2 linked regions of the Homo sapiens genome follow. The protein of the gene in region 2 purifies or fractionates together with the protein of the main gene of each other region. This does not show direct contact. Each region holds a gene or a part of one and is shown on either strand. Other genes may lie near its edges.

Region 1 (4,249 bases), on a different chromosome or scaffold from region 2:
AGAAAACCCACTTTACTTACTTACTTACTTACATTTATTTATTTATTTTTGAGATAGAGTCTCACTCTTGTTGCCCAGGCTGGAATGCAGTGGCGCAATCTCGGCTCACTGCAACCTCTGCCTCCTGGGTTCAAGCAATTCTCCTGCCTCAGCCCCCCCAGTAGCTGGGATTACAGGCACCCATCAACACGCTCAGCTACTTTTTGTATTTGTAGTAGAGACAGGGTTTCGCCATGTTGGCCAGGCTGGTCTTGAACTCCTGACCTCAGGTGATCCGCCCGCCTCAGCCTCCCAAAGTGCTGGGATTACAGACATAGGCCAACGCATCTGGCCATAAAACCCACTTTCTAAGGGGGTTAAGAATGAATGCCTATACTTAACCAAGTTATTCCAATAAATAATAATAAAAACAGGCCATGCATGGTGGCTCACGCCTGTAATCCCAACACTTTGGGAGGCCAAGGCAGGTGGATCACCTGAGGTCAGGAGTTTGAGACCAGCCTGGCCAACATGGTGAAACCCTGTCTCTACTAAAAATACAAAAATTAGCAGGGCGTGGTGGTACGAGCCTGTAGTCCCAGCTACTCAGGAGGCTGAGGCAGGAGAATCACTTGAACCTAGGAGGTGGAGGTTGCAGTGAGCTGAGATCACGCCACTGCACTCCAGCCTAAGTGACAGAGTGAGACTCTGTCTCACCAAAAAAAAAAAAAAAAAAAAAGAGGAATAAAAACAGTTCTTGGCTAGGCGCGGTGACTAACGTCTGTAACTCCAGCACTCTGGGAGGCCGAGGCGGGTGGATCACCTGAGGTCAGGAGTTCGAGACCAGCCTGACCAACATGGAGAAACCCCATCTCTACTAAAAATACAAAAAAATGGCCGGGCATGGTGGCACTTGCCTGTAATCCCAGCTACTTGGGAGGCTGAGACAGGAGAATCACTTGAACCCGAGAGGCAGAGGTTGCGGTGAGCCGAGATCACGCCATTGCACTCCAGCCTGGGCAACAAGAGTGAAACAACATCTCAAAAAAAAAAGAAAGAAAAAAAACACAGTTCTTATTTTGTATTTCAAATCTTGCAGGAATATTTTTCCTTTAATGATGAAGAAAATATTCTTCCTTTACAGATTGGAAAAAAATAGACCAAAAAAATAATCACAGAAGGATTCCCAAATCCCACCTCCTATTCAACTACTCTTGGTATGCATCTAGGTTTTACAAAAAAATTCTGAATGGACAGATGTCCCAATTCAAAATAAGCCTACACATTTACTGTCTAGTTCTTTTCAATAATAGTCCTGCACAGTATTAGCAATATTAGATTGATCTAGAAATACAGAAAGTCTCAGCTAGCTTTTTTTTCTTTTTTTTTTTGAGAGGGAGTCTCACTCTGTTGCCCAGGCTGGAGTGCAGTGGTGTGATCTTGGCTCACTGCAGCTTCCGCCTCCTGGTTTCAAGCGATTCTCCTGCCTTAGCCTCCCGAGTAGCTGGGAATACAGGCTAATTTTTGTACTTTTAGTACAGACCGGTTTTCACCATGCTGGCCAGGCTGGTCTCGAACTCCTGACCTCGAGTGATCTGCCCGCCTTGTTCTCCCAAAGTGCTGGGATTACAGGCGTAAGCCACTATACCCAGCCCAGCTAAGCTTTTTAATCAAAGTTTATTTTGATTGCTCTGCATGTTGGTCACATACATGACTGATAAACTAGATGCAGCCCACATCTAACCCAGTTTGCATCCAACATCTGATTTTATAAGGAGCTGACTTTAGTGGAGAAGCAGGATTACTGTTTTAATATTTACAGCGTGTAAATATTTACAAATGACTACTCAAGAGACTGAGGTGGAAGGGTCACTTGAGCTCAGGAGGTGGAGGCTGCAGTGAGCCAAGATCATGCCACTGCACTCCAGCATGGAAAAAAGAGCAAGACCGTGACTCAAAAAAATAATAATAATAATACAAATGAGTCAACATCTCTCAGTTGAAAAATACTGCAGAACAATGAATTTAACATCAAGTACATAAAAATGTAAGGGAACAATCATAATTGGACCTATATTTAGCTGGCCACGGTGGTTCACACCTGTAATCCCAGCACTTTGGGAGGCTGAGGTGGGCAGATAACCTGAGGTCAGGGAGTTCGAGAGAAGCCTATTCAGCATGGTGAAACACCATCTCTACTAAAAATATAAAGATTAGCCAGGTGTGGTGGTACATGCCTGTAGTTCCAGCTACTCCATAGGCTGCAGCAGGAGGACTGCTTGAACCCAGGAGGCAGACATTGCCGTGAGCTGAGATTGTGCCACTGCACTCCACATTGCAGCCTGGGTGACAGAGTGAGACACCATCTCAAAAAAAAAAAAAAAGAACTATATTTAACATCAATCACCTGTGGGTTCCATGGTCTACAGCAAAGGCTACATTTCCAAAGACAAACACTGCCCCAAAAAATAAAAGAGCTAAGAAAATCATGTTTTCTACAGGCGCCCGCCACCGTGCCGGCTAATTTTTTGTATTTTTAGTAGAGATGGGGTTTCACCGTGTTAGCCAGGATGGTCTCAATCTCCTGACTTCATGATCCGCCTGCCTCAGTCTCCCAAAGTTGGGGGATTACAGGCGTGAGCCACCGCGCCTGGCCAGGAAATTTTCTTTTGTTTTTTTTGTTTTTTTTTTTCAGACAGAGTTTTGCTGTGTTGCCCAGGCTGCAGTGCAGTGGTGCAATCTCAGCTCACTGCAACCTCTGCCACCTGGGTTGAAGCAATTCTCCCACTACAGCCTCCCGAGTAGCTGGGATTACAGGCACATGCCACCACGCCTGGCTAATTTTTGTATTTTTAATAGAGACGAGTTTCATCATGTTGGCCAGGCTGGCCTCGAACTCCTGACCTCAAGCACTCTGCCCACCTCAGCCTCCCAAAGTGCTGGGATTACAGGTGTGAGCCACCACACCCGGCCCCTCATAGGAAATTTAAATGCCAGAACTACCAGTTCTTTTTCTTGGAAGAGATCTACTATACTACGTCTAGCAATGTTTTCTTTTTTTTTTTTAAGCCTATATTTTTAATACATTTGTTCCCCAAAAGGTCACTTTCTACTTTCAAAAAACATGTGAGTCACTCGAGATGAAAAACAGCTTATCTAAAAATGTGTTATAGCTCCCAATAACTCCAAACTGACATCCCAAGATATGAGGCTGTTCCACAGTGAGAGAACTTGGAAACTGGAACTCTCTGATTACTTACTTGTTAAAAAAAGGTTCAATGAGTTTTGATCTGGCAGACACATGAATTTTTGGAGGGCTGAGAAAAGAACCTAATGAAGAAAAGAAGAGAGGTATTATTATTCATAGTCACATAGACCAAGCCTGAAAGTTCAGACCAAAACAGATTTAAATTAACAGCATGGTTCAACAAGTGTGAAAGGTATTCTTTTTTTTTTGAGTCAGAGTTTCACTCTTGTTGCCCAGGCTGGAGTGCAATGGCGCAATCTCGGTTCACTGAAACTTCCACCTCCCAGATTCAAGTGATTGTCCTGCCTCAGCCTCCCGAGGACCAGGGATTACAGACATGTGCCACCATGCCCAGCTAATTTTGTATTTTTAGTGGAGACAGGGTTTTTCCATGTTGGTCAGGCTGGTCTCAAACTCCTAACCTCAGGTGATCCACCCACCTCAGCCTCCTAAAGTGCTGGGATTACAGGAGTAAGCCACTGCGCCCGGCCTGTGAAAGGTATTCTTACGCACCAAGTACCATACCACAGCAAGTGTCAGTGGTTTTTCTTGCAGATTTCCTCCTCCCCTCATCTCCTCCCACTCCTACCTCAAAACCCTCCCACTTTTAATTGGGTGAGTGGATCCCAAGGAAATGGTAGTGCTATAGGTTCAATGTTTGTGTCCCCCTAAAATTCATATGTTGAAGCCTCCCCAGTACGATGGTATTTGGAAGTGAGACCTTTGGGAGGTAATTAAGTCACGAGGGAATTAGTGCCCTTATAAGAAGGGTCAGGAGGCTGGGTGCGGTGGCTCAAGCCTGTAATTCCAGCACTTTGGGAGGCTGAGGTAGGAGGATCACTTGAGCCCAGAAATTCTAGATCAGCCTGGTTAACACAGCAAGACCCTGTCTCTATAAAAAAATTAAAAAGTTAGCCAGGCACAGTGATGCACACCAGTAGTCCCAGCTACTTGGGAGGCTGAGCCCAGGAGTTCAGCGTTGCAGTAAGCTATGATTGAACCACTGTACTTCCAGCCTGGGTG
Region 2 (6,031 bases):
GACCTGGATCATTCTTGCTGAGTACTGCAAGATGTTTAGTAGCGTCCCCAGCCTCTACACATTAGACGCCAGGGGCACCCACCCCAAATATCTCCACACATGGCCAAGTGTCCCCTGAATTACCCGCAATTGAGAACCACAACACAAGACAGTGACTCTGATTACAATGGAAGGACAGAAGTCAGGAAAACCCATCTCCCTCCATAGTCCTCTCTCCGTCACTTACCTACAATCTAGTCACATAGAACTCTGCTCAAACGCCCAGTGCCTCCTTTGTGGTATTAAATGCTTTACTTTCTTGATCTCATTTAACCCCCAAATGTGGTTACAACAACCTCTTGTTTACAGGTGAAGAAATGGAGGTTTAGAAAGATCACAGCTTGCACAGCAGTAAGTGGCAGGCTGGGATTACACAATTACACATCAGTAAGTGGTAGGCTGGGATGCAAACCCCAACCTGTCTAGTCCTGAGGCCAGCATTTAGCTATGCCACCCTGCCCCCAGGCTCTCACTCAGAGGTGAGAAATAGATTTTCTTTTCCTGGGTCAGCAGGGAGTGCTCTGTTTGAGAAGCCTCCGTTCCTCTGCTCTATAAAGCAGTAGCCCATCCCTCTTAAGGGAAACATCTTTCAGGTGCACAGCACACACATCCACGATTGTGGGTCTGCATGTCTGTCGCCCTCCCAGGCTGTGGTCTGTGTCCTCAGCCCCTAACACTGGGGCTTGCTGAGTAAAGTATTTGTAAATGCATGCCCACACAGCAGCGAGGGTTAGACACAGCAGCCAGTTGTGGAGTATGATCTCCCTGGCCATGTCCTGTGTGATCTTGGACAAGATAAAAACTTCTCTGAGCTCAATGTTCCCATCCATAAAATGGGAGGACCCATTTCTCAGGACAGATGCAAGAATTAAATGATGATAAATGCAGGCTGGTTTGTACTGATGCCAGGTGCTTTTTACATAGTCACCAGCAGGGAATGTCTAACTCCCTCCATGAAGTTGCCTACGCAAAGCTCTCTTTCAATTCCTGAACCTCTTTTGGTCAGTCTGTGACCCCCTTGTAGCCAGTGGAGTTGCTCTTTTAGGGTTGTCTGTCCAGCTAGACTTTTAGCTCCCTGAGGACAGGAGCTGTTCCTTTGTTCCCTCCCACAGCAGCCAGCCTGATACCGTCCTCATGGATCTTGTCAATGGATCACCAACAATAATTGCTGAAGAAGCAATAGTATGATTCCTACTTTTGCATTCGATACTGACTTTTCTGAGTAGGTTTTAGCATCTGGCATGCTTTTCCTTGGTTTGCAGCTCGACAGTCGTGCTGTGATTCCCTTCTCCCAGCAGTTCAGGTTATTAGCCATTACTTTGTTTCCGCTTTGGTCATTTTCTTTGATTTCCTCAGCCGCACATTACCTGTGTTAAGATTTCCGCTCATTGCTTCAAACTTAAGGAGTTGAAGAGGGGCTCAGGAGGGCCCAGTTAAGGTAGCCCTTCAAGGCTCCGAGCCCCATCCTGCCCAGCCAGGAGCTGCTGGACCATCAGCCAGTCAGGATGCTTTCTGGGCGTCAGCAGCCTCATCAATAAATTAAGGATATAAGTAGGACCTGCCTCAAAAGGTTAGAAGATTAAAAGTACAGTGGCTAGAATGTATCACACCCTCAATCTCTACAAACCCTCCTCTGACTGGGGCGGGTGGGGTGACCCGTGGGCAGCTGAGCGAGGGGAAACTTTCCCGGGCTTTCCAGCTCTTTAGCAGGCAGCAGGCAGGGCCCAGAGCGCCGGGCGTGCAGGCTGCAGCGGCTTTGCTTCCCCACGTTCCTCCCATGGGAGGACTGGCTGGCTTCAGTAACCCCTGGTGCTGTGGGAGCGAGAGCCAGACCTCACTGCCCCACCGCAGAAGACAAGCAAAGCCATCCTCGCTGACCCTACCGGCAGCATGCACTTCAAAATTAATAAAGGCTGCTCCAAAGTCTCTCCTCTTCAAAGCACCCAGGGCTGCCTCCCTCCCCAGTAATCAAGCCGGTTCTCCACACTCCCCGCTCCGACTTTATTGATTTGCCTGAAAGGAACCCAGTGCCCTCCCCAGATTATACCCCTGGAGGTATTGCAGGCATCGGATCCTCCACCGCTCAGTCAGGCCCCGACGGGGGTCTCCGCCAGGCTTGGCCCCTCCCCCAAGGTCACCCAACTTTTCCCTCTGTCCCCGCGCCCGGCCCGGGGCGAGAGGGGGTGGCGAGGTGGGGGCCGGGTGGGGCGCCACGGGGCCGGCGCTGGCCCCCTCCCCCGCGGGGCGGGCCCCGCCATGCATTATTCATTGGCCAGAGCCGGGCTGCGGGCGCGAGTGCTGATGTCAGGCAGGCGCGAGTGCGGCGGGCGCAGCGGCGGCGGCCGCCCAGCAGCCCGGGCTCGGGTGGGGGGGCGCCGAGTGGGGGTGGCGGCCAGCATGCTGCTCGGCTGCGGCTCGGCCTCCCACACCCGCGGCTCCCTAGTCCTCGCCAGCAGCGGCGGCGGCAGAGCAGCGAGCGGCGCCCGCGTCTGCAGCGGCGCCGGGTCCGAGCGCGCGGCGCGGCGGTGGGGGTCGGGGCCCGGGCGGGGAGCGGGGACCGGGCATGGCGCTGCGGAGAGGCGGCTGCGGAGCGCTCGGGCTGCTGCTGCTGCTGCTGGGCGCCGCGTGCCTGATACCGCGGAGCGCGCAGGTGAGGCGGCTGGCGCGCTGCCCCGCCACTTGCAGCTGTACCAAGGAGTCTATCATCTGCGTGGGCTCTTCCTGGGTGCCCAGGATCGTGCCGGGCGACATCAGCTCCCTGTGAGTGGGACCCCTCCAGCCCCCATCCCGTCCCGCCCCACCCTGCGTCCGCCGCCGCGAGGGAGTTGCCTCTGGCGCCGGGCCAGCGCGACCCTGACCCACTCCCCAGGCCCCTTCTTTGCCTTTGTGTGGGGGACGTGGGTGGAGTGTTGGCCCCCGGGGAGGACGGTGAGGACCTGAGCCCCAGAATCTGGGAACCCAGACAGGTTCCTGTGGCAGCGTTTCTCAGAGTGTGGCCCACGGGCCACCTGCATCAGACTCACCTGGGGAAGCTTGTGCCAATGCAGAATCCAGCTGCTCTGAAGCAGTCTTTGGAGTGGAGTCCTGGAGTGTGCGTTTGACGTCCCCGGGAGACTCAAGGGTGCATTAAAGTTTGAGAGGGCGTGTGCGTGTGTGTGTGTGTGTTTGCGGGTTGGAGTTGTGTGTGTAGGGGCGTGCATAGGAGCAGCTGAACACGACCTGACTGAGTGCAAACTGGGCAGGGTGAGGCCTCACTGCCCCACATCAGGTCTGGGGCGAATGTTCACCCCGTGGCCTCCTCCCGACTTCTCCACATTGCAGGTTGCAAAAAGTCGAGGTCAAGGCATGCAGGCTCTGGGAGGGGAGGGGCCGCCCCCCGTGGCCTAGAAGAGGGGTAACAGAAGGCTGGGCAGAGGTTTGGGGCATGTTGGGCGCCTAGCCCAGTGGCCAAGTGCTTTGAAGTCAGCCTTCTTGCCCTGAGGTCAGGAGGGCTTCTTGCCCCCTTTCTCCATCACACAGTTGTGTTGGCTGCTTTTTCAGCAGGAGGAACTGACAGGAAAGGGCTTCACATTAGGTATCCACCTGCCGAGAGGTGCTTTCATCCTGCCCTCACCTGGCCACTCAAGCCAAATGACCAGCTCTCACAAGGGCGGTGGAAGGGGCTGTTGGGCTGTATCTTTACTGCTAGGACATGTTTCCTGCTAAGACCACTCTCTTGTTCCAGGCCAAGATGCCTGGGTGCCCAGTCAGTGGTGGAGGCAGGGAATCCCCGGGGTGACGTTGCTTGTGCTCAAGATACTTTCTTGTGTCCAGTGCTTCCCAGCCTCCCACCCAAGGCAAATTGTAGGGGCCTGGACCCAGGAGTGAGGGGGTTCCCATTTGCATTTATAGAAAGTCAGAAGAGTTTGGCTGGTGGGAACAGAGGACCTTTTTGATTCTTAATATTGCTAAGTCGGGTGACATGGAGGATTCCAGAAATTAGAGTTCCCCTTATTAAATCCTTCAGACCAGCAGCTGCTTAAGTGATCTGCATGCCAACTGAAAGGAATTCTGAAATAATGTATTCAGATCCTGCTGTGGCCAGAAAGGATGGGGGCCTGGGGGCAGAAATAAAGCCAAGCATCTTGCCTCCTGGTTGACCGTTTTATCTGGCAGATGGTACTGCCTCTCCCCACACAGGGGAGTTCAGGTGTCTGTGAGTTTTTCCCCAGGGCTTTCATGTTGCATTTAATCAGGAGTGCTCTGTCTTTCAGAGATGGGGTCCCAAGAGGAATGCTTAATCCTACCCCAGCATTTCATAGGCCAACACAACGCTGTGTCTACACAAACAGAATCATGGGCAGAGGTGAAGCGATTATCCATTTTCAGGCAAGGACCTCCTGTAGTTAAGAAAAGGAAGTGAAGGGATTGATTTAAACTGACCGAGATAATGTCTGTGGAAGGAGCTGATGGTAAAGGTTTCTGTTATTCAGACTAGTCTTCATATTGATCTGATTCATTGGGAAGTGGCTTGTCTCTTCTTATTCCTACCCCGGGGAAGATCCTGGGCAACTGTGCTATGCCTCACTCCTGAGAGTCAGGGTTTGAAGTACAGGTGGAGGCAGAGTTTGATTACCCACCCTGCATGGCACTTCCTAAAAGAAACCTAGGCCTACTTTTGTTCATCTTTTGCCCGTAGGAGCCTGGTAAATGGGACGTTTTCAGAAATCAAGGACCGAATGTTTTCCCATCTGCCTTCTCTGCAGCTGCTGTGAGTATGGGAAGTTCCCTCTGCACAATGGGGGGCCCTGAGGTGCCATCCTTGGAGGGCCGTCTCTGCCTCTTTGGTATCAGCCCTTCCTAAAGTACCCCAGCTCCGTGAGGAGACCGTGGCTGCCTCTTGGTGTTAATTTACCCTGTGATGTCCCCAGCAAAGCACTGAGGCTCCCTGCTCAGCTCTTTCCTTAGTTCGATACCTGTTTTCTTCAGAGACTTTATTGTAGATCCCAACACCCAGATCTAGTAAATGGGGAGGTAATTGCATTGACTCATGACCTGAAAGTCACCTAAATGCACTGTTTCCCAAACACCTCAGTTTAAAAGAAAACTTCATTTTAAAATCTTAATGTTACTCTGGAAATAGGAGTGTTTCTAGTTTGCTGAGAACTTAAACCAGTCAGGCAGCATCCTATGAACTTACGTGCGTAATTTTATTTCATCATCACTTCATCGGTATGATGAAGGCATGCTTATGATCCCATTTGATAGATAAGGAAACTGAGGTTCAGGGAACTTAACTAACTTGTCCCAAATCAGAGCCAGATTCTAGTCCAGGGCCAAAAGCCCACACTCCTAACTATTCCTCATCCCATCTCCTCTCTGTGAGCAATGCTCAAGTCCCTGTGGTGATGCTCATGTTGTGCCCTGTAACCCAGGCTGGGTAATGTGTGCTGATGAAAACAAATGTCCAAAAAGTAGTTTTCAAAAGCAATCCAGTGACAGGCAAAGTAAGAGTACACACCTCATTCTCTTGATCTGTGTTGGTTTCTTAAATTTGAGATGAGACTGAAATTAAAACAAGCAATGTGCTATAGAAAAATTTGGATAAATGGAATATAGGAGAGCACTATTCATCCTCAATAAACATACTCTTGATACTTTTGTTCTTGAAATCTTATATGCCTACTTTTAACATTACACTTAACATTTTAAAATCTGAGGCCTCTTAGAAATTGCAGTGCTATTAAAATATACTTTTCATATAATAGAAATACAATTTTAGGTATTCTTTTGCCAGTAGACTTGGGTGATGACTCAAATAGAAAACTACGTAGTAACAGTCTCCTGAAAGTTTCTTAAACAAACTTTTTTTTTTTTTTTTTTAACTATTGTTATGGGTCCAGCTGCATGACTTTGGTCAAGTCACTTAGCTTCTCTGGGCTTTTATTTTCGTAAAAATAGATTTGGATTAGATCTTTTTAGATCTCTAATTTTATGATTGCTTGTGTACCAT

Evidence for each region. The genes of interacting proteins can lie anywhere in the genome.
Region 1: the proteins of LGI2 (region 2) and PARN purify together in Homo sapiens (affinity purification with mass spectrometry; one large-scale study listed by BioGRID and IntAct). This does not show direct contact.

The regions. Positions count from the first base shown.
Region 1 is NC_000016.10:14,577,635-14,581,883, forward strand, and holds part of PARN (poly(A)-specific ribonuclease PARN), read right to left. Parts: intron 3,310-4,249; coding exon 3,240-3,309; intron 1-3,239. UniProt on the Homo sapiens protein: 3'-exoribonuclease that has a preference for poly(A) tails of mRNAs, thereby efficiently degrading poly(A) tails.
Region 2 is NC_000004.12:25,027,265-25,033,295, reverse strand, and holds the start of LGI2 (leucine-rich repeat LGI family member 2 precursor), read left to right. Parts: upstream 1-2,349; 5' UTR 2,350-2,602; coding exon 2,603-2,799; intron 2,800-3,062; exon of another isoform or gene 3,063-3,188; intron 3,189-4,717; coding exon 4,718-4,789; intron 4,790-6,031. UniProt on the Homo sapiens protein: Required for the development of soma-targeting inhibitory GABAergic synapses made by parvalbumin-positive basket cells.